Homo sapiens: one gene and its partners. The protein of the gene in region 7 purifies or fractionates together with the protein of the main gene of each other region. This does not show direct contact. Each region holds a gene or a part of one and is shown on either strand. Other genes may lie near its edges.

Region 1 (3,500 bases), on a different chromosome or scaffold from region 7:
TCAGGAGTTCGAAACCAGCCTGGCCAACATAGTAAAACCCTGTCTCTACTAAAAATACAAAAATCAGCTAGGCGTGGTGGCGAGCGCCTGTAGTCCCAGCTACTCAGGAGGCTGAAGCAGAAGAATTGCCTGAACCTGGGAGGCAGAGGTTGCAGTGAGTCAAGATCACGCCACTGCATGCCAGCCTGGGTGACAGAGCAAGACTCCGTCTCAAAAAAAAAAAAAAAAATATATGTATATATATATATATTTATATGTATATACACATGTATACATATGTATATATGTACACATGTATACATATATACATATACACATATGTATATACGTATATATACACACATATATATACACACACATATATGTAATATATGTATATATATTAGTACACACACACACACACACATATATGTATATAAAAATTAGCTGGGCATAGTGACAGGTGCCTGTAATCCCAGTTACTTGGGAGGGGCTGAGGCACAAGAATCACTTGAACCTGGGAGGCAGAGGTTGCAGTGAGGCGAGAGCACACCAGTGCACTCCAGCTCAGATGTCGGAGTGAGACTCTGCCTCAAAGAAAAAAAAAACCTTCAGACATCAAACTTTTGGAATACTGAACTTTAGAAAGTACATGCAGTAATGTTTTTGATCTATAGTCTCATAAAACTAAAAGAAGCAAGTAAAACTTCCTTACAACCAATTCCACAGAACCTTCATTTATTCAGCACAATAAATGAAAGCACATGGGCTAGAATCTCTCCTCCACCACTCATCAGCATTCCAGATAAACAGGCAATGTGTACAAACAGAGCAAAGAAGGATAAGACTACAGTATGCTGGCCAGGTGCGGTGGCTCACGCCTGTAATCCCAGCACTTTGAGAGGCTGAGGCAGGCAGATCACGAGGTCAGGAGATCGAGACCATCCTGGCTAACACAGAGAAACCCCATCTCTACTAAAAATACAAAAAAAAAAAAAAAATTAGCCAGGTGTAGTGGCCGGCGCCTGTAGTCCCAGCTACTCGGGAGGCTGAGGCAGGAGAATGTTGTGAACCCAGGAGGCGGAGCTTGCAGTGAGCCGAGATCGCACCACTGCACTCTAGCCTCGGTAACAGAGCGAGACTCCATCTCAAAAAAAAAAAAAGAGTGTACAGTATGCTGCAGAAATAGCATGTAGTCCATTGTGGCTGACGCACACAGCACTACAAATGCCACACCAAGAAGGTTGGATCTCATTCTGTAGACAACTGAGTGCTAAAAGAGGCTTGTGTGCAAAGGAGTGATGTGATAAGATTTCTATTTTAGAATGGTAACCAGCAGTAATGAGGATCTGATGGACTGGCAGGGAAAGCAACTGAGAAAGAGGCTAGTTGAGAGTTATTGTAATGATTCAGATGTACAGTAAAGATCTGGAACTAGGGCAGGAAAACTAGAATGAAGTGAATAGAGCTATTGCAAATATGACCAACTGGCAATAGGAGTCAAGAGAAAAACCTTAGAATTTCCTGTCTAGAGGGATATGATGCCACTAATCAAGACAGGAAACAGAGAGAGGAACACGAACAGTTCTCCCAGTTCCCAGAATATTTTGGGATACATGTGCATCTATGCGTGCACATGTATTAGAGAGAAAAGGCTGTACTCTTAGTAGTTTCGGGAGTGTAAATTAATTCCATTGCAAGTGGTTAGGTAGTTGAAGCAGAGAAGAACAAGAAAAGTCAAAGCATAACATGCTAGGCAAAAGCTCTAAGAACACAGCTGTGGTCAGCTCTTTTTGTGCCTTGAGTACTAAACACCATCATACGTCCTGACTACACGTTTTTGAATGACTACATCAGAATGGGCTACCAGTCCAATGCACTATCCACTGTGTCACAAAAGTGGCTCCTTCTAATTATATTTTAAACCTAAATACAAACTAAGAGGTTTTCCACAGGTTTACTGAAGTGTAATTAAATTGGTTGCAGAATACCTGCCTGAGAGTGAAGTTAACTCCTTGAACACAATCAGATTATTTCATTAGAGAAAGTATCCAGAAAAAAAAAGCCTATCCATGATAACAATTAGGACCAGGTCCACAAAGACCTTGAGGACACCAAAAACAGCAAGGACAGCCTGAAATGAGACTTAAAAATGACATCCTCTGTGAGATGACATCAAAGGAATTACTGTTAACTTGGTTAGATTCATGGTGGCATTTGCATTATGCAAGAAAATGGCCATATTTTTGGAAATGCATACTTGACAGTATGTAGGATTAAAATGACAGATGTTTGGAATTTACCTTAAAACACAATAGCAAGAAAAAACAAAATGGGATAGATGAAGAAAATGTACCAAAGCCCTAAAATTATTAAATCTGAGGGATGAATATATTGAAACGGGGTCACTATATTATTCCACCTATGTTTAAAATTGTTCATAATGAAAAAGAATAGCAGGACTCTCCACACAGGCATGTTCTCTGGTAGCAGTGCCAGGTTAACTAACACTCCAGCCCTTGGTGGAGCCACTCTTCCCTTCAATTCCAATGTTCAAAACCAGAACCCTAGGAGAGAGACGAAGCCACTTTCACACTTAGAGGCCATATCCAGCCTCACCCCAGTGATGCCTTCCATGTGTTCCATTTAGTTGCGTGTGTGTTCATTTCTTATATGAGAGAGTGGTAAGTCCTTCTGAAGGCAGGGACTATATCTGAATTCCCTATGTCCACTAAGAATAGTGCTTTGTACACAGCTACTTTCTAAATGTATGCTGCTAAATTTTAAAAAGTCAGAATGTATAGCAATGTGCAGACACATTCATGACTACTACTTACAATTAGCCCCCTTTTCTAATCTAATTTAGGGTCCCCTCTTGGCATAGCCTGATTTGGAGGTAGCAGGGATGAGAGAATAGGGCTATTCCACCCTAATTGAAAACAGACAGTATTTTGGTGAGACACTGAAAACCAGGAAAAATAGTGTATTTAACAGAAATAGGGCCAGGCATGGTGGCTCACACCCGTAATCCCAGCACTTTGGGAGGCTGAGGCTCGCACACCGCCTGAGGCCAGGAGTTGGACACCAGCCTGGCCAACATGGTGAAACCCCATCTCTACTAAAAATACAAAAATTAGCCGGGCGTGGTGGCACGTGCCTGTAATCCCAGCTACTCAGGAGGCTGAGGCAGGAAAATCTCTGGAACCTGGGAGGCAGAGGTTGCAGTGAGCTGAGATCGTGCCACTGCACTCCAGCCTGGGTGACAGAGCGAGATTCTGTCAGAAAGAAAAGAGAAGAGAAGAGGAGCGACAGATCGAGATTCTGTCAGGAAGAGAAGAGGGGAGCGGAGGGGGAGGGGAAAGGGCTGTGATTACATCTCCATGATTAAAATTCAGAAAATGTCTAATAAATACTTTTTTTTTTGAGACAAGAGTCTTACTCTGTCACCCAGGCTGAAGTGCAGTGGTACTATCTCGGCTCACTGCAACCTCTGCCTCCCGGGTACAAGTGATTCTTCTGCC
Region 2 (3,500 bases), on a different chromosome or scaffold from region 7:
AAATAGAGATGGGGGTTCAATATGTTGTCCAAGATGGTCTTGAACTCCTGGGCTCAAGCAGTCCTCCCACCTTGGCCTCTCAAAGTACTAGGATTATAAGCGTGAGCCACCATGCTCAGCCACAAAGATGATTTTTAAATGCAGGCAATTTATTCATGCAATTCAAATTAATATTTACTAAAATTATTTAAATTAATGAGAAGCTACATAGTAAGATTTTTGTTTTTGTTTTTGTTTTTGAGACGGTTTCACTCTTGTTGCCCAGGCTGGAGTGCAATGGCGCGATCTCGGCTCACTGCAACCTCTGCCTCCCTGGTTCAAGCGATTCTCCTGCCTCAGCCTCCCGAGTAGCTGGGATTACAGGCATGCGCCACCACGCCCAGCTAATTTTGTATTTTTAGTAGAGATGGGGTTTTTCCATGTTGGTCAGGCTGGTCTCGACCTCCTGACCTCATGATCTGCCCACCTTGGCCTCCCAAAGTGCTGGGATTACAGGTGTGAGCCACCGCACCTGGCCCATAAGTTTTTTTTTTTTAACCTACTTACTGATAGTCTGTGAATACTGACAAGATTAGCAACAGGATGTTTACCCTTTAAATTATTTTTAGAACTTCTGATCTAAACCTTGGCTGTATCTTTTATCTTTCCATTTTACATGACCTTAAAATCCAATCTCTATTCAATGACTAACAGAATTACATGAAATGACTTTAACAGCAAGACATAAACAATACCATTCTACAATTACAATTCTGGAGAGCAAACTGAAGTAGCTGAGCAAACTTACTGGAACCAGTTTCCAAAACCATTTGGAAGGAGACTTCAGAGGAAGCAGCGGGAAAAAAGGGGAAAGCAAAAGGTAAAGGGAAAATTCATCAGAATTATCTTCAATTAACAAATTATAGTAAAGCTTCTGATAGTGGAGTTCCAAGTTTATAGTTCTCATAACATTTCATATGTTAATAAATATTTTAGTTAAAAATACATAAGTTCCTAATGCTAAAGACCACTATCTTCTCCTGTCTCTCTCCTCTCCCCATACAGATATTCATTGTAGGATACCTAGAATATGCTGTATACTTTAGCAGCAAAAAATTTTATTTCTGAGTTTTGGAATCATATGTCATATTAAAAAATAAATCTATATCACAAAAGGGAAGTAAAAATATTCTACAGCTAGGTTTGCAATCATAATTCTTAGGTATTAGTAGACTGTGTCTGACAAGGCAATATTCCCCAAAAAGCAAAGTAGAAAGATAATTTCAATAAAAACAAGTATAAAGCAAATAATAATATAGTAGAATATATCAAGATGATCATTTCCTTCACTATATAAAAAGTTTCTTTTAATTAATGGAAAAAAACCTAGTTGGCAATTGTTACCAGTTAAGATTTTTGTAAGTGTCTAAAGCAAGTAACTACTCACACAAAGAGAATATAAATGTTATTAAATTTACTATCTAGGGCTGTCCCAAAGAATCTAATTTTCTTCTTTAAAAAAATGAATATAATAAACCCATAATTTCAGATAACATGAATTAATCATTTGTGTTTGTTTATCTTTGTATCTGCTAAAACAGCTTCTGGCTCTGAATAAATGTTTGTTGAAGTGAACCAAAGTAAATAGAATCTGAGTTAAAATTCATATCCAAAATTAAAATTCATATCCAAAATTTTTATGTAGAAAGTTTTTCCGTATAAACAGAAAAATAATATAAATAAGGTATTTTCAAGAACTTTAAGAATTAGAAAAATGTCACCTGAAGAATCAGAAACATACCAGCTTCCTACATATAAACAACATTTCCAATAAATTTTTCTTATAGCACCAGGAAGAATAGCCTCAATAATTTTGTGGAATGTATTTTAATCTCCCATTTAACTGAACGTTTTTGGCAGCTGCAGTTATAATAGCCACAAAAAGTACAAGAGCAGGACCAAAGAGCAGGAAGCCACTGAAAACGTGTCAGGGTTTCCAATTTGTAACAGAAATTTTAAAAACAAGGATTTTTTTGTTTTCTAGACTAGAAGAACCCATTAAATAGAAAATGGTGATAACAAGAAATTATTGTGGACTATTCCTAACAGCAGGTGTACAAAGAAGTCTCTTAACGGTTAAAGTTATTCCATATTTCTTGTAAAATATGCAATAATTGGATTTTGTTACTAATTCAGACTGCTCTGGCCTTTCTCTTGGCCCTCCATTGATCTAAACTGGTAACAGCAATCTTCTTGGCGGAAAAAGGAAACCCACAGATTGGCTGTGTGAAGGAAATTTAACTAAAGAGTAAATGTACTAAAAGAACAAATAAATATACTATGCATACTTATATACGTATGCTTCAAAAAGCTCAAATACATAGCATAAGTTCCTTGCTGAAGAATAACGCCATTTCTGAAGTGATCAGCAACTATCCTTTTGGTTTTCAGGGAAGAATTAGGCAAACTGCAACATCAAATCCTGTTTTAAGATGTAAATAACCACGAGGACAAAGGTTTTTTGATTTTTTTTTTCTTTTTATCAGGACCACCAGGCAAGAAACAAAGGGTTTTTTAAAACCCATGGATAACAGGTGAAAAAACTTTTATTAAGTTTCTACCGACAAAGGGGCCAACCTAGGCAGTCCAGATTTTCTGGAATAGTTCTAATTTCAAATATTCCTTTCAATTGTCTTTATAATACATGTTTGGCTCACCCTGAATTTTGGCTAGTTGTTTTAGGACTTGCCATTAATACTCTCCAAATAATACTCTTCCTCTGGGTATCTACAACATTCTGGCAAGGTAGGATAATTCCTGAACTACTTCTAGGTGCTCTCAGGCCGTTCCAGGAGGATATTGGTTTGGTGTGGTCTTTATTGGAGACCTCAAAGAGTTGGGGTCCTTCAGGGAGTTAATCATGGCTGTGACTTGTTACTGCATGACTTGTTAACTTGTTAGATTTAATCTTTTTTTTTTTTTTTGAGACAGTCTCCCTCTGTCACCCAGGGTAGAGGGCAGCGGAGCTATCTCAGCTCACTGCAACCTCTGCCTCCCAGGTTCAAGCAATTCTCCCACCTCAGCCTCCCTAGTAGCTGGGACAACAGGCATGCACCACCATGCTTGGCTAATTTTTGTATTTTTTGGTAGAGACGGGGTTTCACCATGTTGGCCAGGCTGGTCTTGAGCTCCTGACCTCAAGTGAACCTCCCACCTAGGCCTCCCAAAGTGCTGGGATTACAAGTGTGAGCCACCACGCCCAGCCATTAGACTTAATCTCCTAGCTGTTGCAGATCCAAAAGTTATGCCGAATCGCTGATGGAATATAAAATGGTACAAGCTCTTTTGGAGGGGATTTCGTCAACATTTAACAAAACTACATACAGTATGCATTTACCCTTCAATCTAGCAGTCCAACTTCTAGGAAATTTACCTTGAAAATACATATCCAAAATACAAAAGGCCACATATAACAGTATTCTGTGCAGCACAATTTGCAATAGCAAGATACTGGAAACTAC
Region 3 (3,500 bases), on a different chromosome or scaffold from region 7:
TGAAACCACAACTCTACAAAAAAAAATACAAAAATTAGCCAGGTATGATGCTGTGTGTCTGTAGTCCCAGCTACTCGGGAGGCTGAAGTGGGAGGATCACTTGAGTCTGGGAGGTCAAGGCTGCAGTGAGATAGCACCACTGTACTCCAGCCTAGGTAACAGAATGAGACCCTGTCTCAAAAAAAAAAAAAAAAAAAAAAGAGAGAGAGAGAGATAAACCCTCTCTAACATGGTTAATTGACTGTGACATGAAGGGTGCCAAAACCATTCAATGGGGAAAGGACAGTCTTTTCAACAAATGGTGCTTGTAAAATTTGGTATCCTCAAGCAAAAGAATGAAATTGGACCCTTACTTTATACGATATTGAAAAATTAACTTAAAATGATCAATAACCTAAATGTAAGAGCTAAAACTATAAAACTCTTAGAAGAAAACATTGTGGAAAATCTTCATGATATTGGATTTGGTGATGATTCCTTGGATTGACACAAAAAGCAAAAGGTAACAAAAGAAAAAATTAATTTGACTTAATCAGAATTTAAAATTTCTGTGCAAAAAAGGACACCATCATGGGAGTGAAAAGACAAACTACAAATTGTGAGAAAATATTTGCAAATCATATATCTGGTAAGGGATAAATATTCCCTATATATAAAATATATAAATACAATGCAATTCAAAAATGAGCAAAGGATTCAAATACACATTTCTCCAAGAAGATATACAAAAAAGGTCAACAAGTACATGAAAAGATGCTCAATATCACTAGTTGTTTAGAAAAATGCAAATCAAAACCACAATGAGATACCACTTTTCACACCAAATAGGATGATTACCATGAAAAAGAAAAATAAGTGTCAGTGAGCACATGGAGAAACTGGAACCCTTACATATTGCTGATAGAACTGTAAAATGGCACAACCACTACGGAAAACAGTCTGGTGGGTCCTCAAAAAGTTAAACATAGATTGACTAAGTGAAATAAGGCAGTCAAAAAAAGACAAATACTGTATGTTTTCACTTACATAAGATATCTAGGGTAGTCAAACTCTTAGAAATAAAGTAGGATAGTGGTTGCCAGGGGTTGGGGGGAATGGAGAAATGAGGAGTTGTTTAATGGGTACAGAGTTTCAGTTTTGCAAAATGAAAAAGTTCTGGAGTTTGGAGGCACAACCATGTGTACATACTTAACAGTTGTGTTAAGTATGTACTTAACATAATTAAATACTGTTAAGATAGTAAGAAAAAGATTTATTTTTTATTTTTTTATTATTTTATTTTATTTTATTTTTCCCCCAGAGACAGAGTTTCGTCATGTTGCCCAGGCTGGTCTCAAACTCCTGGGCTCAGGCAATTCTCCCGTCTTGGCCTCTCAAAGTGCTGGGATTACAGGCGTCAACCACAATGCCCAGCCAAAATGGTAAATTTTGTATGTATTTTACCATAATCTTTTCTTAAACATAGAATTACTCATATGACTCAGCAATTCTATTTACAGCTAAATACCCAAAAGAATTGCAAGCAAAGAACCAAATAGATACCTGTATATCAATATCCATAGCAGCATTAGTCACAATAGCCAAAAGGTGGAAACAGCCCCACCATCGACAGATAAAATATGACATATATACACAATGCAATATTAGCCATAAAAAGGAATGAAATTCTAATATATGCTACAACATGAATAACCCTGAAAACACTATGCTAAGTGAATTAACTCTAACACAAATGGATAAATATTATATTAACCCACTTATATAAGGTACCTAGAATAAGCAAATTCATAAAAACAGCAAGTAGAAGATATTAGTGGGTGGGAGTGAAACTGCCCCCACAGGGTTCACAAGAAGTGCATGCCAGGTTCTGGACAGAAATATAGTTATAATTAAGCATTAATCAGGCCGCACTTTGGCCCACTTCCTGGTTGCTAAAAGTCATATAGCACTAGATACTGACTATTTGCATTCCTATTGTTCCTACAGAATAGGATTTCTGACATTAGGGTCATAAAACTTTAAGATTTTATTTCTATCCCCATCTTTCCTATAACAGGATCTCTGACATTATAATCATAAGGCTTTTGTTTAAGGATTGCTTAATATGTTTTTCAGACCCCTGAATTCCAGCAACCAGTTTGAAGTCCCCCACAGAGGAACGGGATCTGCAAGAGAATACAGCTTCTTCATCTCCCTGTCCCATGACTTCATCCTGTACTCTTTAACAAATAAACAATTGCCACACTTCGGCCCACTTCAAAACCCTTAAAAAACCTTAGCCCCCATCTCTTACGGGAGATGAATTTGAGGTTTTCCTCCATCTCCTCATTTGGCGGCCCTATGATTAGACCTTTCTCTGCTGCAACCTGGAGTCTCAGCTTATTGACTTGCTGTGTGCATTGGGCAATGAACCCATTTACAGTTACAGAAGGGAGAATTAGTGAGTTAACGTTTCATGGGTACAGAGATTCTGTTTAGGTGATGAGAAAGTTCTGGAAAAGGATAATGGAGATGGTTGTACAACATTGTAAATGTAATTAATGACACTGAACTGTACACTTAAAAAATGGCTAAGATGGTAAATTTATGTTATATATATTTTACTGCAATAAAAAGTATTTTAGAGAAAGACACATTAGAAAGAAAGAAGCTGGAAATGGTACATAGAGACAACTCTATGGAGTTGTTTTGGTCCAAAAAAAAACAAGACATGGGAAAGTATACCTATTAATAAAAGAAACAATAGGGGCTGGGTGTGGTGGCTCTTACCTGTAATCCCAACACTTTGGGAGGCCGAGGCAGGCTGATCACTTGAGCCCAGGAGTTCAAGAACAGCCTGGGCAACAAGGTGAAACCCCAACTCTCCAAAAAATACAAAAATTAGCTGGGCATGGTGTCATGCACCTGTAGTCCCAGTTACTCTGGAGGCTGAGGTGGGGGGATCATCTGAGTCCAGGGAGGTCAAGACTGCAGTAAGCCATGATCACACCACACTGCACTCTAGCCTGGGTGACAGAGCGAAACCCTGTCTCAAAAAATAAAATAAAATAAAATAAAATAATAGAATAAAATAGGTTGGGCGCGGTGGCTCATGCCTATAATCCCAGCACTTTGGGAGGCTGAGGTAGGTGGATCACTTGAGGTCAGGAGTTCAAGACCAGCCTGGCCGAAATGGTGAAACTCTGTCTCTACTAAAAATACAAAAATTAGCCAGGTGTGGTGGCAGGCGCCTGTAATCCCAGCTACTAGGGAGGCTGAGGCAGGAGAATTGCTTGAACCCGGGAAGCAGAGGTTGCAGTGAGCCAAGATTATGCCACTGCACCCCAGCCTGGGCAACAGAGTGAGACTCCATCTCAAAAAAAATAAAAATAAAATAAAATAAAGGGGAAATAACAGAGCCAAAATATTTGGGTTTTTTTTTTCCTTAAAAGAATTTTTTTAACATGTTAATGGTAATACTTAGTAGTGAAAATACAATGTAGAAAAGAGAGGGGAGAATT
Region 4 (3,500 bases), on a different chromosome or scaffold from region 7:
TCTCCACAGGCAGGGCCCACCCCGGTGGGATTCCCATTACCACGTTAGTCACAGAAAACATCCCAGCCCAGAACCGGGAACACACACCACGGAGCCTGCTCCTGTTCCCAGAAGCCAAGGGAGGGCGCAGCGGGGCTGGCCACCGTCGTCAGCGCTCACCGCCTATCCTCAGCCCCAAAGGACAAGTTCTTATACCACCGCGCCAGCCAGCTAGTTCCAAGTTGCCCAATCGAGAAAGCTGCTGCCTGCCATGCCTCTTCCCAGCAGTGACTTCCCCAGGAGTGTGACCGTCCCACTAACACCCCCAGAACCACAACACAGACGCCGATGGCAGCCACAGGGCCACAGACCTTAGCCCATCGCTTGTGACCTTCGGAAGCTGGTCAGCACTCACCCTGTGCAGGCATTACTGGGAGGCGTGGGGTCACTCATGCCATCCCCTATGAGCTCAGCACCTGCCGGGTCACACATGTGGCTCGCGAGGTAGCCCCTGCCTGCTGGGAGCCGGCCAGTGTGTCCACAGCATCCAGGCCACGCTTGGCGAACACGCGGCCGCCCCATCGGTATGGTCCTGACTGTGCGCCCACACTAGAAGCCTAAGCTCTTCATACTCAAAACTCAAAGCAAAACACAATTGTGATGAGACTTGGTAAAGTTGTTGTAAAAGCAACTAAGTCAAAAGAGCTTCCTACACTTATAAAAATCAAACAAAACAAAACAGTTTCCTCATTGGTCACATGGTCCTCCTGCCTAATCCCTTCTGAAAAAAAGTCCTCAGTTCAGCAGCAAAGAGGCCACACTTCAGCTCCCTGCTCCTAACTGAGCCGGGTGGGACCAAGCCCTCTGTTCCCGTGGCCTCAGACCTGGCCAAGTACCCAGCCTCCAGCCTCGCCCCAGCACTGCGCCAGCCACCGCTCTGGCCCGCGGAACCGGCTGGGCCCCAGGGAAGGCACCCTCAGGCCACAGTCAGGTGGAAGGGCGTTCCCTGCCTCCTAGCCCGCTGCGTCACTCTGCTTGGCTCCGGCCCAAGGGCGTGCAGGTGGCTCACGGTCCTCCGGCCTGGTCAGCCAGCAAAGCCCCCGCCCTGCACACGGCTCCCCCTGCTCTCCCCGCCAACAGTCACCACTGACCCAGTGGCCTGGCCTACACCCATTCCAGCCCTGAGGCTCAGCTGAGCCCAGCCAGAGCCACCAGCAGCGGCGTCGTACACCGGCCCAGGCACCCACCGCTGTGTGTGACCACAAACCAGCGCCTCGACCTCTTCCTGGGTCACCTGCAAAGCAGGACACCAGCCCTTGCAGGCACGCACGGCTGTGGGTACTGCACGGAGAGGGCAGGGGGTGGCGTGAAGCTTGCAGGCACACACGGCTGTGGGTACTGCACGGAGAGGGCAGGGGGTGGCGTGAAGCCAGCATGGCCACAGCCTGGCCCGCCTGGCCAGCTCCTACTGAGACTGTCTCACACATGGGTGGCCACGCACACTGTGACACACGGGCACTCACGCACCTCCACAACACAGGCCCACCAATTCCCTGGACAACAAAACAGGAAGCGGGTGCCCTCCTCACCAGGCGCCCCCACAGGGTCTTGCTCTGGACTATCAGGGAAGACGGAAGTTCAGATGCATGGGAAGCCCTGCCCCTCCACAGCGGGGATGGGAAGCGGGAGGTTATGATCCCAGAGACACAGAGCCCAGAGGGGGCGTGCTCCCATGGGGGTGCCGAGAAAGCTGCATGCCCCTCAAGGCTGCCCCACAAACCCACCGCTTCCTCCTGCGGGGCTGTCTGGCCTCGGGCAGCTCGGGGACCACTGAGTACGCCCTGGTCTGAGGGCTGAGGCAGAACATGCACCTGTCCGGTGACCCCGCCCTGGCCCGAGTGACTGACGGCTGGTGAAGGCAGCAGCTGAGATGCGAGTGACAAAGGAGTGGCTCTGCCAGGACCAGGAAGTGCAGGGAGGGCACCAGGCAGCGGGGGAGAGGCCCGGTGGGGTGCCAGGGACACAGCAAGCACAGGATGGCGGGACAGAGCCACGGCGGGGCCGGGAGGGCAGTGGAGCACTCTGGGTCACCCACGTGGCTGCTGTGCAGGGAAGGGATGGTGAGGCCGCGGCGAGTGGTCAGGAGTCCACACAGCGGAGGGCAGCCGGGCAATAGTGCAGGGGAGCTGCTTGGATATTTTGGGATCAAAGTGACAGAATCTGCAGATGGACTGGATGAGGGAAAGCAAACAGGGGTCGGGCCCCCCGCCTCAGGCATTTGGCAGCAGTGACAGGTCACAGACACTCCGGGAACCAGTGGCACTGAAAGGGCTGGGCCTCAAAAGCACAAGTGCGAGTCACTTCCATCCTAAGGGGCTCCGTCAGCGTCTGGAGCAGCAAGGCCAACCCCCGTCCTGCCTGGGACGCACGCTGCCGCGGGGCCCACACTTTGCAGAGCAGCTCCTCGGATGACTCCCCCGTGGCTCCTGGGACCTGAACTTCGGTGACAGCCCAGGGCTGGGGCCTCCGTCCCTGCTGTGCGCCCCCAGCCTCCATGGCACCGGTGCCTGTCAGCAAAGGGCCATGCAGTGGCCGCCCCCGTATCACACGGCCGCATTGCGCTTTCTGGTCAACAGTCCCCAGCAGCCTGCGCGCTGGAACACTCGGCCCTTCCGCATGGTCCTCCCTTGCAGAAAGTGAAGCATCCATGACTCCGTGAAGGAGGAGGCCCTGAAGAGAGCCCGTTCTGCACAGAGGAAGAGAGCCCGTTCTGCACAGAGGCCTGAGAGCTGAGGCACCAGTCCCAGAAGCAAAGGCTTCTCTGGGGAAGAGGCAATGAGGATGTCTACCAGGTGCAGAATACGACTCTCAGGGCTGGCTGGGAGCTCACTTTTTTCTCTGGAGACAGTCTTGCTCTGTCGCCCAGGCGGAATGCACTTTGATAATCACAGCTCCCTGCAATCTCAACCTCCCAGGTTCAGGTGATCCTCCCGCCCCAGCCTCCTTGGCAACTGGGACTACAGGTGTGTGCAACGATGCCTGCTAATTTTTGTATTTTTCTGAGTCTGAGTCTTGCTCTGTCGCCCAGGCTGGAGTGCAATGGTGCGATCTTCGGCTTACTGCAACATCTGCCTCCCGGGTTCAAGCAGTTCTCTGTCTCAGCCTCCCAAGTAGCTGGGATTATAGGCACGCGCCACCATGCTTGGCTAATTTTTGTACTTTTAGTAGAGATGGGGTTTCACCATATTGGCCAGGCTGGTCTTGAACTCCTGACCTCGTGATCCGCCCCCCTTGGCCTCCCAAAGTGCTGGGATTACAGGTGTGAGCCACCGCAGCTGACCAATTTTTGTGTTTTTTGTAGGGATGGGCTTTCACCATGTTGCCCGGGCTGGTCTCAAACTCCTGGGCCCAAGTGATCTGCCTGCTTCGGACTCCCACAGTGCTGGGACTGCAGGTGTGAGCCACTGCGCCCAGCCTGGATTATAATTCTTTACACATAAAACACAGATATCAGATCGATC
Region 5 (3,500 bases), on a different chromosome or scaffold from region 7:
CAGCCTCCTGAGTAGCTGGGATTACATGTGCACACCACCACACCCGGCTAATTTTTTGTATTTTTTAGTAGAGACGGGGTTTCACTATGTTGGCCAGGCTGGTCTTGAACTCCTGACTTCATGATCCGCCTCCCTCGGCCTCCCAAAGTGCTGGGATTACAGGCATGAGCCACCACGCCCGGCCTGGACTTTCATTTTTTTAAAAGGTTCAAAGTTATAGTGCAAGGTTAAGTTGCTTACAGATAGCAGGTGCTTTAGGAACCCTCTAGAAGGAAAGTTGCCATGGGCTGGGTCATCAGGGCTGGTCACAGAGGAAGGAGGAGCTTGAGTTGGGCTTGATGGCTGAGCAGGGATGAGCCAGACAGAGCAATACTATAGAAACAGGGGCTGGAAGGATGCTGTGAGCAGCTTTCAGAGGGAGGCGTCCAAAGGATGAGTGCAGGCAGCGTGCAGACCAGCCTGGCAGCAGCCAGAACACAGATAACCTCCTGGGCAGTCTGATGGACAGCCGAGTGACACATGAAAGCAACATATTTTGATGTGGCTCAGAGCAGGGAAGGCACGGCACTGAGAGTGGGGTAGTCTAGAGATGGTGCCTGGTAGGCTATGGCCAAGGGGCATATGCAGAGCTGTGCCTGGCACCCAGGGGTGACTAACCTTGGAAAGGAAGAGCTCAGCAGATCAGACCATTTGAGAGGGAAAGCGGAGCCTGGGTGACTGGAAGAGTGACGTCACCGCTGCCTGAAGCAGGGGAAGACCCACCAGATTTTTGTCACATGGCCTCTTTCCCAGTGCAGCACTGCCCCCAGCACCTGCACCTCCATCTATTTCTGTCTGAACTCTTGTACTCTTGCTACCTTTCTGGACAGAGTAGCCTCATCGGGGCCCTAAGAGGCAGAGAGAGAAAGACAGTACTGAATCCCTCTGCTCTGGGGATGCGCCTGATGTCACCCACTTGCCTGAGAGACCCTCTGAGATCACTGTGGATCACACACTCCTGCTAGTTGCCCAGGAGCCGTCAGCCAAGGTCTTTGCAGAGCGAGCTGTCTCCATAATCAGACACCTCCAGAACTCTGCTGGAGAGTGAAGGCAGCAAGGAGAGGTGCACTGGCTGCGGGACGTGGGGTTTCTGACCTCTCAGATCATTGAGTATTGTGATCCCAGTGAAGCAACAGAGTTTGAGAAAAATCATTCTGAATAATGAGAAAGAAGATGGCCTGGACCCAGGCTGAGCAGTAGAACCTGGTTGGGTTGTGTTTTTCTGGTTTATTGATCTGGTCGACGTGGACCACGCCTTGCTGCACCTCTCTCTGCCTCCCCTGTTTCCCTTTTCTTGGGCCTTCCTAGGCTCCCTGGCTCACGGTGCATTCTTTTCTCATCACAGGCAATTTTTACCCAGAAAAGCAAGCCGGGGCCTGACCCGTTGGACACGAGACGCTTGCAGGGCTTTCGGCTGGAGGAGTATCTGATAGGGCAGTCCATTGGTAAGGGCTGCAGTGCTGCTGTGTATGAAGCCACCATGCCTACATTGCCCCAGAACCTGGAGGTGACAAAGAGCACCGGGTTGCTTCCAGGGAGAGGCCCAGGTACCAGTGCACCAGGAGAAGGGCAGGAGCGAGCTCCGGGGGCCCCTGCCTTCCCCTTGGCCATCAAGATGATGTGGAACATCTCGGTAAGCACCAGGCCTTTCATCTTTAAAGGAGATGTTCTCAAAATGCCCATCTTAGTGGGCCTGGTGAGGATTTTTTCCAGGAAGTAGGTAGGAAAAGACAGATTATCCACAGGAAAGGTGCCTGTATAGTCAGGTTACCTCCCCCTGTTACACAGAAGTCTAAACCAGAATGTTTGAAATTGTATTCTGCCCACAGATCACCCAGAGATCAGGTTCAAAGGTAGATTTTGGCCAGGCCTGGTGGACCATGCCTGTAATCCCAGCACTTTGGGAGGCCAATCACTTGAGCTCAGGAGTTTGAGACCAGCCTGGGCAACATGATGAAACCCCATCTCTATGAAAAATACAAAAATTAGCCGGGTGTGACAGCTTGCACCTGTATGTAGTCTTAGCTACTTGGGTGGCTGGTGGCTGAAGTGGGAGGATCACTTGAGTGCAAGAGGCAGAGGCTGCAGTGATCCAAGATTGTGGCACTGCACTCCAGCCTGGGTAACAGAGTAAGACCCTGTCTCAAAACAAAACAAACAAACAAAAAAAACCCAAAGGTAGATTCTGATTCAGCAGGTCAGGGATGGGGCCTAAGATTGTGCCTTCCCAATAAGCTCCCACGTGATACCAATGCCACTGCTCTGTCAACCACACTTTGAGTAACAAGTGCCTAAACCACTGATTTCTACCTTGATTGGTTAGTTCACCATCCCCTCCTTCCTGCAACCTGCCTCACTGGAGAGGGGGAACTGGATCTCTTTCCTTTAAGCTCACTCTGCAAGCCCACCTCCAGCTCAGAGGCTTGCATGTCAACTCCCTACTCTCAACTCTTGGAAGGACTCAAGACTTTGGGAAATTGAAGAGTATTTTTCCCCCACGAAAACAATTTCTGTCCACTTAATTTATTTACCTTGCCATTGCTAGGTAGGTTTTAAAAATGTATTAAGACCCGATGCTCTGTCTCCTGCCCATCCCTGGGCCCATCCATTCAAGGCCGCAGTGGGAAGTGGCCACAGCCGTTCATGGTGGGCCCTAGAGGATGCAGTTTCTTGTTCTGATTTGGGGAATGAAGGTTATTAGACTGTTGCACTCCAAGCTGGGTTAATAGCTAACAAGTAGCCAAATCCTTTGCCTGTGAAACATCCAGTCTTAGCATCAAAACATGCCCTGGTTGGGGCATGACAGCTGTTGCATTCACAGCAGCTACAAGATTGTTGATTCTTACCAGATCTTCTTGATACAGGTTTCATATGTCCTGAGAGCCCTTCCCAATACAATGAGGACAATAAGGTGCTTTCCCCACTCTTTGGTTTTTGTCTGTTTGTCGTGGGGGATGGAGGAAGGCTGTTCTGTGATTCAGTACAACTTCACCCAGGGTGGAGCATGTCAGGCTCTGGCCTGGCTGCTGAAGGGAGCCTGCAGAATGAGTTAGTGATCCAGTGGTCAATTTTGAACTGGTGGGGACCAGAGGCACCGATGGCAGGAAGCAGCACCCCATATCCTGATCACCTTGGCATCTCCTCCAGCCCTGGCATCTAGGCTGCAAGAGTTTGAGGAGTGTGAAGAATCCTCTGAGTTGGCATGGATGGTACCTCTGTCTGCCTCCCAGGAGTAACTAGTCTCAGCCTGCCAGTTAAGACAGGTCATCTTATCTCGAAGGTCAGAGCCAATTCTAGGCAGTAGCTGCCCTGCTCCAGGTTACAGGCAGGGCTTACAAGGAACTTACCATTCTGCTCCGGCCTGTGTAACCCTGGGTTCCTTGTGGGTGTTCCAGGCAGGTTCCTCCAGCGAAGCCATCTTGAACACAATGAGCCAGGAGCTGGTCCCAGCGAGCCGAGTG
Region 6 (3,500 bases), on a different chromosome or scaffold from region 7:
GCATGTAAAATATAACTCCATAAAAAAAAAAATACCATGAAGGGAGAGTACATGAAGGTATGGCTAGTAAGGCTGGTTGTTTAAAAAAAATACAGTGTGAGGCTGGGTGCGGTGGCTCACGCCTGTAATCCCGGCACTTTGGGAGGCCAAGGAGGGCGGATCACAAGGTCAGGAGATCAAGACCAACCTGGTTAACACGGTGAAACCATGTTTCACGGTGAAACACTGAGTACGTGTATTTTTTTTGTAAAAATACAAAAAAAATTAGCCGGGCGTGGTGGTGGGCGCCTGTAGTCCCAGCAACTCGGGAGGCTGAGGCAGGAGAACGGCGTGAACCCAGGAGGCGGAGCTTGCAGTGAGCCGAGATCACGCCACTGCATTCCACCCTGGGTGACAGAGTGAGACTCCGTCTCAAAAAAAAAAAAAAAAAAAAAAATATATATATATATATAGTGTGGCCATGGGATCTCCAACTGCATGCAAGAGCAACCTGGAGAGACTTTGACAGAACAGGTCAGCACAATCCCTGCAGCTGCCACTTGTCTTTCGTGTGTGTGTGTGTGTGTGTGTGTGTGTGTATAAAACCAAAATGTGTGACACAATAAATGCTGGCACAGCTCTGATTTCTTTTAAAAAGAAAATTAAAATAGGAGTTCTGGTTCTAATTATTAGCTATTAGCTACTTCTGAAATTCAGAAAGTACCATAATTAGGCTAAAGGGTTATATAATATGTAGTGAATCTTCAATGTAATACCATATACTCTGCTATTTTTCTTTTGCTAATTAGTTTTGTTACATTAGTAACCAGGCCATGCCAACACAAGTATTCCAGTCCATGTGATGATATTTCTCAATGTAAATTAATAAACTGAAATTCTAATGGTAAACATTTTTTCATAAATGTAGTTAGAGACCCCTCTGAAAGACAAAGCAGCTTTTGCCATGCTGACCAAATTAGATTTCTGAGCCTGCAAAAATCATCCTGGAGTTTCACAAATCCACCTAAATGCTGCTACCCATGACGTCTCTTGGGAGTCGGCCAGCAGCCTCTGGCTATACCCCAACCTGGGTTCTGAGAGCACTTTCCATTAGAAACCTCTATGCTCAATGAGGAGACTGGTGCTGCTGTGCTGGAAAGAGATCAAGCTGAGCAGGCAGGATGAGGCCTGGAAACCAAGCACACAGGAGATAGCCCCACTAGCAAGAAGGCCCTCATGGAGAGGTAAGGCAGGTGTTCATCACCCCTACCTACCATTCTGCCCCCCAATTCCCAAATACCTTCTTGAGCACCTCAACCTGGCGAGTATCTCCAGCACTAGCTCGGGCCTGCTCTAATTCCCTCTGCAAGACCTCTATCTTCTCTCCAAGCTCCTCTTCCATCTCCTCCTTCTCCATTCGCAGCTGCAGGAGTCTGAGCCAGGCAAGGTGAAATAAAGGGGAAAGGGAACAGAGTAAGGCCACATGCCTGGGGGAGGTTAGCATGACAATAAAAGCCACCTCTCTGGAGGCCAACACGCTGGGCACCAACTCTCAAGAGGAAGGAAGGTGAACGTGGAAAAGAGCAGTTTGAGAAATGGGAGAGTAAGAGCATACCATAGATAGAAAGGAAGTGGGCCAGGCATGGTGGCTCATGCCTGTAATCCCAGCAATTTGGGAGGCCAAGGCAGATGGATCACTTGAGCCCAGGAGTTCAAGACCAGCCTGGGCAACATAATGAAACCCCGTCTCTACAAAAAATACAAAAATTAGCCAAGTGTGGTGGTGCATGCCTATAGTCCCACCTATTCGGGAGGCTGAGGTGGGAGGATGGCTTGAGCCCAGGAGGTGGAGGTTGCAGTGAGCCCAGACTGTGCCACTGCACTCCAGCCTGGGCAACAGAGCAAGACCCTGTCTCAAAAAAAAGAAGAAAGGGACTGGGTGCAGTGGCTCACGCCTGTAATCCCAGCGTTTTGGGGGGCCGAGGTGGGAGGATCACGAAGTCAGGAGTTCAAGACCAGCCTGGCCAATATGGTGAAACCCCGTCTCTACTAAAAATACAAAAAACCCAGGCCTAGTGGCAGGCGCCTATAATCCCAGCTACTCGGGAGGCTGAGGCAGGAGAATCGCTTGAACCCAGGAGGCGGAGGCTGCAGTGAGCCAAGACTGCACCACTGCACTCTAGCCTGGGCAACAGAGTGTGACTCCATCTCAAAAAAAAAAAAAAAGGAGAAAGGGGGCCAGGCGCAGCGGCTCACACCCGTAATCCCAGTGCTTTGGGAGGCAAGGTGGACAGATCACCTGAGGTCAGGAGTTCGAGACTGGCCTGGCCAACATGGTAAAACCTCATCTCTACTAAAAATACAAAAATTAGCTGGGCGTAGTGGCATGCGCCTGTAATCCCAGCTACTTGGGAGGCTGAGGCAGGAGAATCTGTTCAACTCAGGAGGCAGAGGTTGCAGTGAGCCAAGATCGTGCCATGACACTCCAGCCTGGGAAACAAGAGCGAAACTCTGTCCCAAAAAATAAATTAAAATTAAAATTAAAATTAAAAATTAAAAAAAAGAAAGGAAGTGGCATATGAATCATGGGTATTTCTGAGAGGGCCAATGTCCTTACTCCTGCTTGGTGGCTCTAAGATCCTCCTTGTTCTTCTGGAACATACTCTGCCAATGCCCTGTCTCCTCTGAAGTCTCCTCCAGCTCCCTCTGCAGCCCTCGCACAAGGGCTGACATCTTCTGCCTCTCGGCCTCCAGCACTGCATGGTCCTAGAGAAGGGGAGAGTTGGACACCAGAAGGCTCAGAGGGAAGAGGTCACTTCAAATCAAAGTGTGAGTGTGTACAAGGAAAGGCTTAGACCCAGAGGGCACCATGCCAGGTGCACCCCCTGACACTCTTGTGGTACCTGGTACAATGCTAGCAGAGATTCTCTCCTCAAGTCACAGTCCACCCCTCTATCATCTACAGGAAACCTCCCCAGTTATTTCCCCTTGGGACTTTTTATTTTTAGGGGGACAGAGTCTCGCTGTGTTGCCCAGGGTGAAGTGCAATGGCATGATCTCGGCTCACTGCAACCTCCGCTTCCTTGGTTCAAGCGATTCTCCTGCCTTAGCCTCCCAAGTAGCTAGGACTACAAGTACGCATCACTACACCCAGCTAAGTTTTTGTATTTTTGGCAGAGATGGGGTTTCTCCATGTTACCCAGGCTGGTCTCTAACTTCCTGAGCTCAAGCAGTCCACCCGCCTCAGCCTCCCAAAGTGCTGGGATTACATGCATGAGCTACCGCACCCAGTCCCCCTTGGGACTTTTGTCACACAACCTCAAGGTACTTCTGGCCTGTACTCCCTCCCTCTGCCCCTATAGTTTTCCTGCCCAAGGTTTTCAGCAGATCTCACTGTGTCCTTTAGGAGGAGAGGGGGAGTTCCCAGTTGCAACCATGAAAAGTCCAAAAGTCCAAGATCCCAAGGCAGCCTTGTTCTCCAGCAGTGCCCTCCTCTCTCAGACCCTGCTCTTGTCACATGC
Region 7 (3,500 bases):
TTGGTAAATATTACCAAATTACCGTCTAAAAAGTCCCAGTTTTCATTCCTTCATATTGTGCATGAGAGTGCCCATTTCTCTGAACCCTTGCCAGAGTTAGATTTTTAAAAATCTTTTTGATCTGTGCACAACTGATCAGAGAGTACAATTTGTTTTTATCCGTGATATGTATGTCCTTGTCTTGGAAATCAAACATAGCTTCAAATGATAATTTGCTGCTCTTTGGGAGATTTTTTAAAATATTCTTTTGGGTTTTGAAAAGTAGTCTTGTTAGAATAAGTTGAATAGTGTTCCAAGGGGACAATTTTGAAGGGCACGTTGAAGAGATGCTCTTGTATTACGAAAAAAAGACAATCCTTTATTTATAATCACACACTTACACCTGGCACATTCATATATGACTTATCTCTACAACAAAATTGAATAGTCCTTGGAAGTTAGACAGCAACATTTATTGAACTCCTGCCATGTATAACAGCCTTTGTTGCCAGAAGGAATATGGTGTTATGAACCCTGTCCTTGTGGAACTTATAGTCTAAGTCTTTAAGTACATGTAATTGGAGGTAAAAAGTGACATACACAATAATATGTTTTCTGGGGCAGTCCTGTGGGAGTTCCATATCAGAGCTGGTAGGGAATAAATATTTTTTGAATGAATCATACAGATTCCTTAATGTATGAAGTCATAGTGTCCTAATAGAGAAGATATCTGCTGCTGTTGAGGCATTTGTTCTGGGAGGATAAAGCTGGGAAGTTGGTATGTGCCTTCAGAAGTGTTTGCCCATTCCTCTTATCTTCAGAAGTGATCTATTTCCCTAGAATAGATTTTATTGAGGGCACTTCAGTATACTTTTGTCACTTTGCCTTTTGCCATTTGACTTTTTGGTGCTAGAACACCTATTAAATATCTGATCACTTCTCGGCCTTTTGGCTAAGATCAAGTGTATTAAATGTGTGACTTCTCATTAAAGCCCTTGTTTTTGCAAGGGAGAACTATTCAGTATGAATTTGAAAGCACCTGCCTCTCTACTGGTGACTAGCTGCCTTCCTTTCATGCCAGGAAGATGGCTTATTGTGATTGCTGTAGAAGGATGTTTGCAGCTCTGATCTGTGATACTATGCTTCCACAAATACTCTCATTTATAAATAAATGTGTGGTGTATACATTTTTTATGGTTATAGAGAAGTTTGTATTTTTACAAGTGAAATTTAAATGCTCATTGTTAATTTCATATTTTTTTCTGATCAATATCCTTAAAATGGTAGATTGACACTAATACTTCAGGGACCAGATATCTCAGAAATTTGATGCTTAAAGGAATCCCATGGTATTAGGAGATGTACTCGGTCTGTATTAGGGTATTAACTTTTTGATTCAGGGATACCTTACTCACCTTTGCATTTCCCATTAGCCTCAGAGTAAAATAAGTACTCAAGGAATATATTAAGAGGAAAAAAGTGAAGATTAATGTAATTTGCTTGATTAGAGATGCTCCTCAGTTAAATTTCTTTTTAATCTCAGTATCTTTATTTTAAGACCCACTTTAAGACACATCAGCAGAATGATGTGTTTCCAGACAACAATTTTTAAAACCTTAGTTAACTGTAAGGATTTATTAGCTAGATTTCCTCTCTATGTTCCATTTCTAGAAGAAACAGATTACAAGAAAATCTGGTGTTATAAGTCCTTCTGAAAGTAAGTATCTTCTAGGACTGTTCCTGGAAACATAGTCAATCCAGCTTTCATATTCCTTGTACTTCTCAACAATTTTGCAGGGGCAGGGAAGTCACTCAGATGACTTGCAGTGTCCTCTATCACAAAGGAAGCACAGACTTATTTTATGTGCCACGAACTTACTAAGACAGATGGGATATTGACATATTTTAGGACTACTTTAAGCAAGAATTGATCATTGAAATTATTGATTTTTTATCATTATTATTAATAGCTAACATTTATTTAATTACATGCCATGTATTTTTTTGAGCATTTTACCTGCATTATCTCCTGAAGCTTCCATTTTATAAATGAAGGAAAAAAAAAAGGGAGGCTCAAAAAGGTAAAGTATTTTGACTGAGATCTTATAGCTAACGAGTAATAGGGCCAGGGTTTGAACCCTTTCTGTCTCTAGGGCCTAGTACCTAACCGTTGTCCTGCAATATTTTCTTTGTTGAGTATTTTCACTTAACTGAGAGGGTGCTATCTTGTTACTAGAACAAATATTATTACAGTGTTTTTTGTATGTTTTGTTTTGTTTTGTTTTTAGAAGACAGGGTCTCACTATGTCACCCAGGCTGGAGTGCAATGGTGCAATCATAGCTCACTGCAGCCTTGAATGCTGGGGCTCAAGTGATCCCCCCACTTCAGCCTCATGAGTAGCTATGACTACAGGCATGTCCCACCATGCTCAGCTAATTAAAAAATAATAATTATTATATATATATATTTTTGTAGAGATAGAGTTTTGATTGTGTTGCCCATGTTGGTCTTGAACTCCTGGACTCAAGCAGTCCTCCTGCCTCGGCCCCCCAAAGGGTTGAGAGTACAGGTGTGAATCACTGTGCCCGGCCTCATTACAGTTTTAACAGGACTGAGGAAGCAGTTTTTATAATTAAGTTTCTAAAATAAGAAGTTGATTGTATAGTAGGTAATTTTGATTATAAATTTTATTTTAAAAACACAGGCCAGGCATGGTGGCTCACGCCTGTAATCACAGCACTTTGGGAGGCCAAGGCGGGCGGATCAACTGAGGTCGGGAGTTTGAGACCAGCCTGACCAACATGGAGAAACCCCATTTCTACTAAAAATACAAAATTAGCTGGGCATGGTGGCGCATCCCTGTAATCCCAGCTACGCGGGAGGCTGAGGCCGGAGAATCTTGAACCTGGGAGGTGGAGGTTGCAGTGAGCCAAGATCACGCCACTGCACTCCAGCCTGGGCAACAAGCGCGATACCCTGTCTCAGAAAAAACACAACAACAACAACAACAAAAACACAATACTATCTTGACAGGAAAATATATTCATTGAGCAACATTAATTTGGTGGTACATCATTTTTATAAAACCCCTAGTAACTCTGAAAGCATTGTCTGTGCCCTTTTAAACACTTCACAATCATATGACAGGAGGGGAAATGTAAACTGATGAAATAGAGTTTTGTACTTTAGCACATCATTTGAGGAAAATACAACTTGTTCCCCCATGACCTTATAAAGTAATGAGAAGATTGCATGATAGTGAAGGGAGAAAGAAAGGAAAATATATTGTTTTAACAGTAGTTATGTGCTTCGAGTGGCCTGACTTGTAAGGAGTTGCTGTGATTTGTTTTGCAAGAGTGCAAGCCTTCCTTTCTGATTCTATAGAGATCTCATTGACTAGAGCTGCAGCCCCTAGTGCTTATAAGGATTTCCTTTCAGCTTAGACTAAATCCTTTTAAGCTCCACAGAACAGGGATAAATGTTGATTTTCAAGGTGGCATTTTACTACACTGAATGTGTC

What was found.
Region 1: the proteins of MAPKAP1 (region 7) and STK38 purify together in Homo sapiens (affinity purification with western blotting; one study listed by BioGRID and IntAct). This does not show direct contact.
Region 2: the proteins of MAPKAP1 (region 7) and CAMSAP2 purify together in Homo sapiens (affinity purification with mass spectrometry, with the first as the bait; one large-scale study listed by BioGRID). This does not show direct contact.
Region 3: the proteins of MAPKAP1 (region 7) and TESK2 purify together in Homo sapiens (affinity purification with mass spectrometry, with the first as the bait; one large-scale study listed by BioGRID). This does not show direct contact.
Region 4: the proteins of MAPKAP1 (region 7) and NADK purify together in Homo sapiens (affinity purification with mass spectrometry, with the first as the bait; one large-scale study listed by BioGRID). This does not show direct contact.
Region 5: the proteins of MAPKAP1 (region 7) and PINK1 purify together in Homo sapiens (affinity purification with western blotting; one study listed by BioGRID). This does not show direct contact.
Region 6: the proteins of MAPKAP1 (region 7) and CGN purify together in Homo sapiens (affinity purification with mass spectrometry, with the first as the bait; one large-scale study listed by BioGRID). This does not show direct contact.

What each region holds. Positions count from the first base shown.
Region 1 is NC_000006.12:36,526,980-36,530,479, forward strand, and holds part of STK38 (serine/threonine-protein kinase 38), read right to left. Parts: intron 1-3,500. UniProt on the Homo sapiens protein: Serine/threonine-protein kinase that acts as a negative regulator of MAP3K1/2 signaling. Converts MAP3K2 from its phosphorylated form to its non-phosphorylated form and inhibits autophosphorylation of MAP3K2.
Region 2 is NC_000001.11:200,825,893-200,829,392, reverse strand, and holds part of CAMSAP2 (calmodulin-regulated spectrin-associated protein 2), read right to left. Parts: intron 821-3,500; coding exon of another isoform or gene 788-820; intron 1-787. UniProt on the Homo sapiens protein: Key microtubule-organizing protein that specifically binds the minus-end of non-centrosomal microtubules and regulates their dynamics and organization.
Region 3 is NC_000001.11:45,453,164-45,456,663, forward strand, and holds part of TESK2 (dual specificity testis-specific protein kinase 2), read right to left. Parts: intron 1-3,500. UniProt on the Homo sapiens protein: Dual specificity protein kinase activity catalyzing autophosphorylation and phosphorylation of exogenous substrates on both serine/threonine and tyrosine residues. Phosphorylates cofilin at 'Ser-3'. May play an important role in spermatogenesis.
Region 4 is NC_000001.11:1,757,971-1,761,470, forward strand, and holds part of NADK (NAD kinase), read right to left. Parts: intron 1,933-3,500; coding exon of another isoform or gene 1,764-1,932; intron 1,274-1,763; coding exon of another isoform or gene 1,131-1,273; intron 673-1,130; exon of another isoform or gene 562-672; coding exon of another isoform or gene 395-561; intron 165-394; exon of another isoform or gene 88-164; intron 1-87.
Region 5 is NC_000001.11:20,636,458-20,639,957, forward strand, and holds part of PINK1 (serine/threonine-protein kinase PINK1, mitochondrial precursor), read left to right. Parts: intron 1-1,384; coding exon 1,385-1,672; intron 1,673-3,434; coding exon 3,435-3,500. UniProt on the Homo sapiens protein: Serine/threonine-protein kinase which acts as a sensor of mitochondrial damage and protects against mitochondrial dysfunction during cellular stress.
Region 6 is NC_000001.11:151,524,887-151,528,386, reverse strand, and holds part of CGN (cingulin), read right to left. Parts: intron 2,746-3,500; coding exon 2,597-2,745; intron 1,413-2,596; coding exon 1,280-1,412; intron 557-1,279; exon of another isoform or gene 449-556; intron 1-448. UniProt on the Homo sapiens protein: Probably plays a role in the formation and regulation of the tight junction (TJ) paracellular permeability barrier.
Region 7 is NC_000009.12:125,672,709-125,676,208, reverse strand, and holds part of MAPKAP1 (target of rapamycin complex 2 subunit MAPKAP1), read left to right. Parts: intron 1-911; exon of another isoform or gene 912-1,055; intron 1,056-3,500. UniProt on the Homo sapiens protein: Component of the mechanistic target of rapamycin complex 2 (mTORC2), which transduces signals from growth factors to pathways involved in proliferation, cytoskeletal organization, lipogenesis and anabolic output.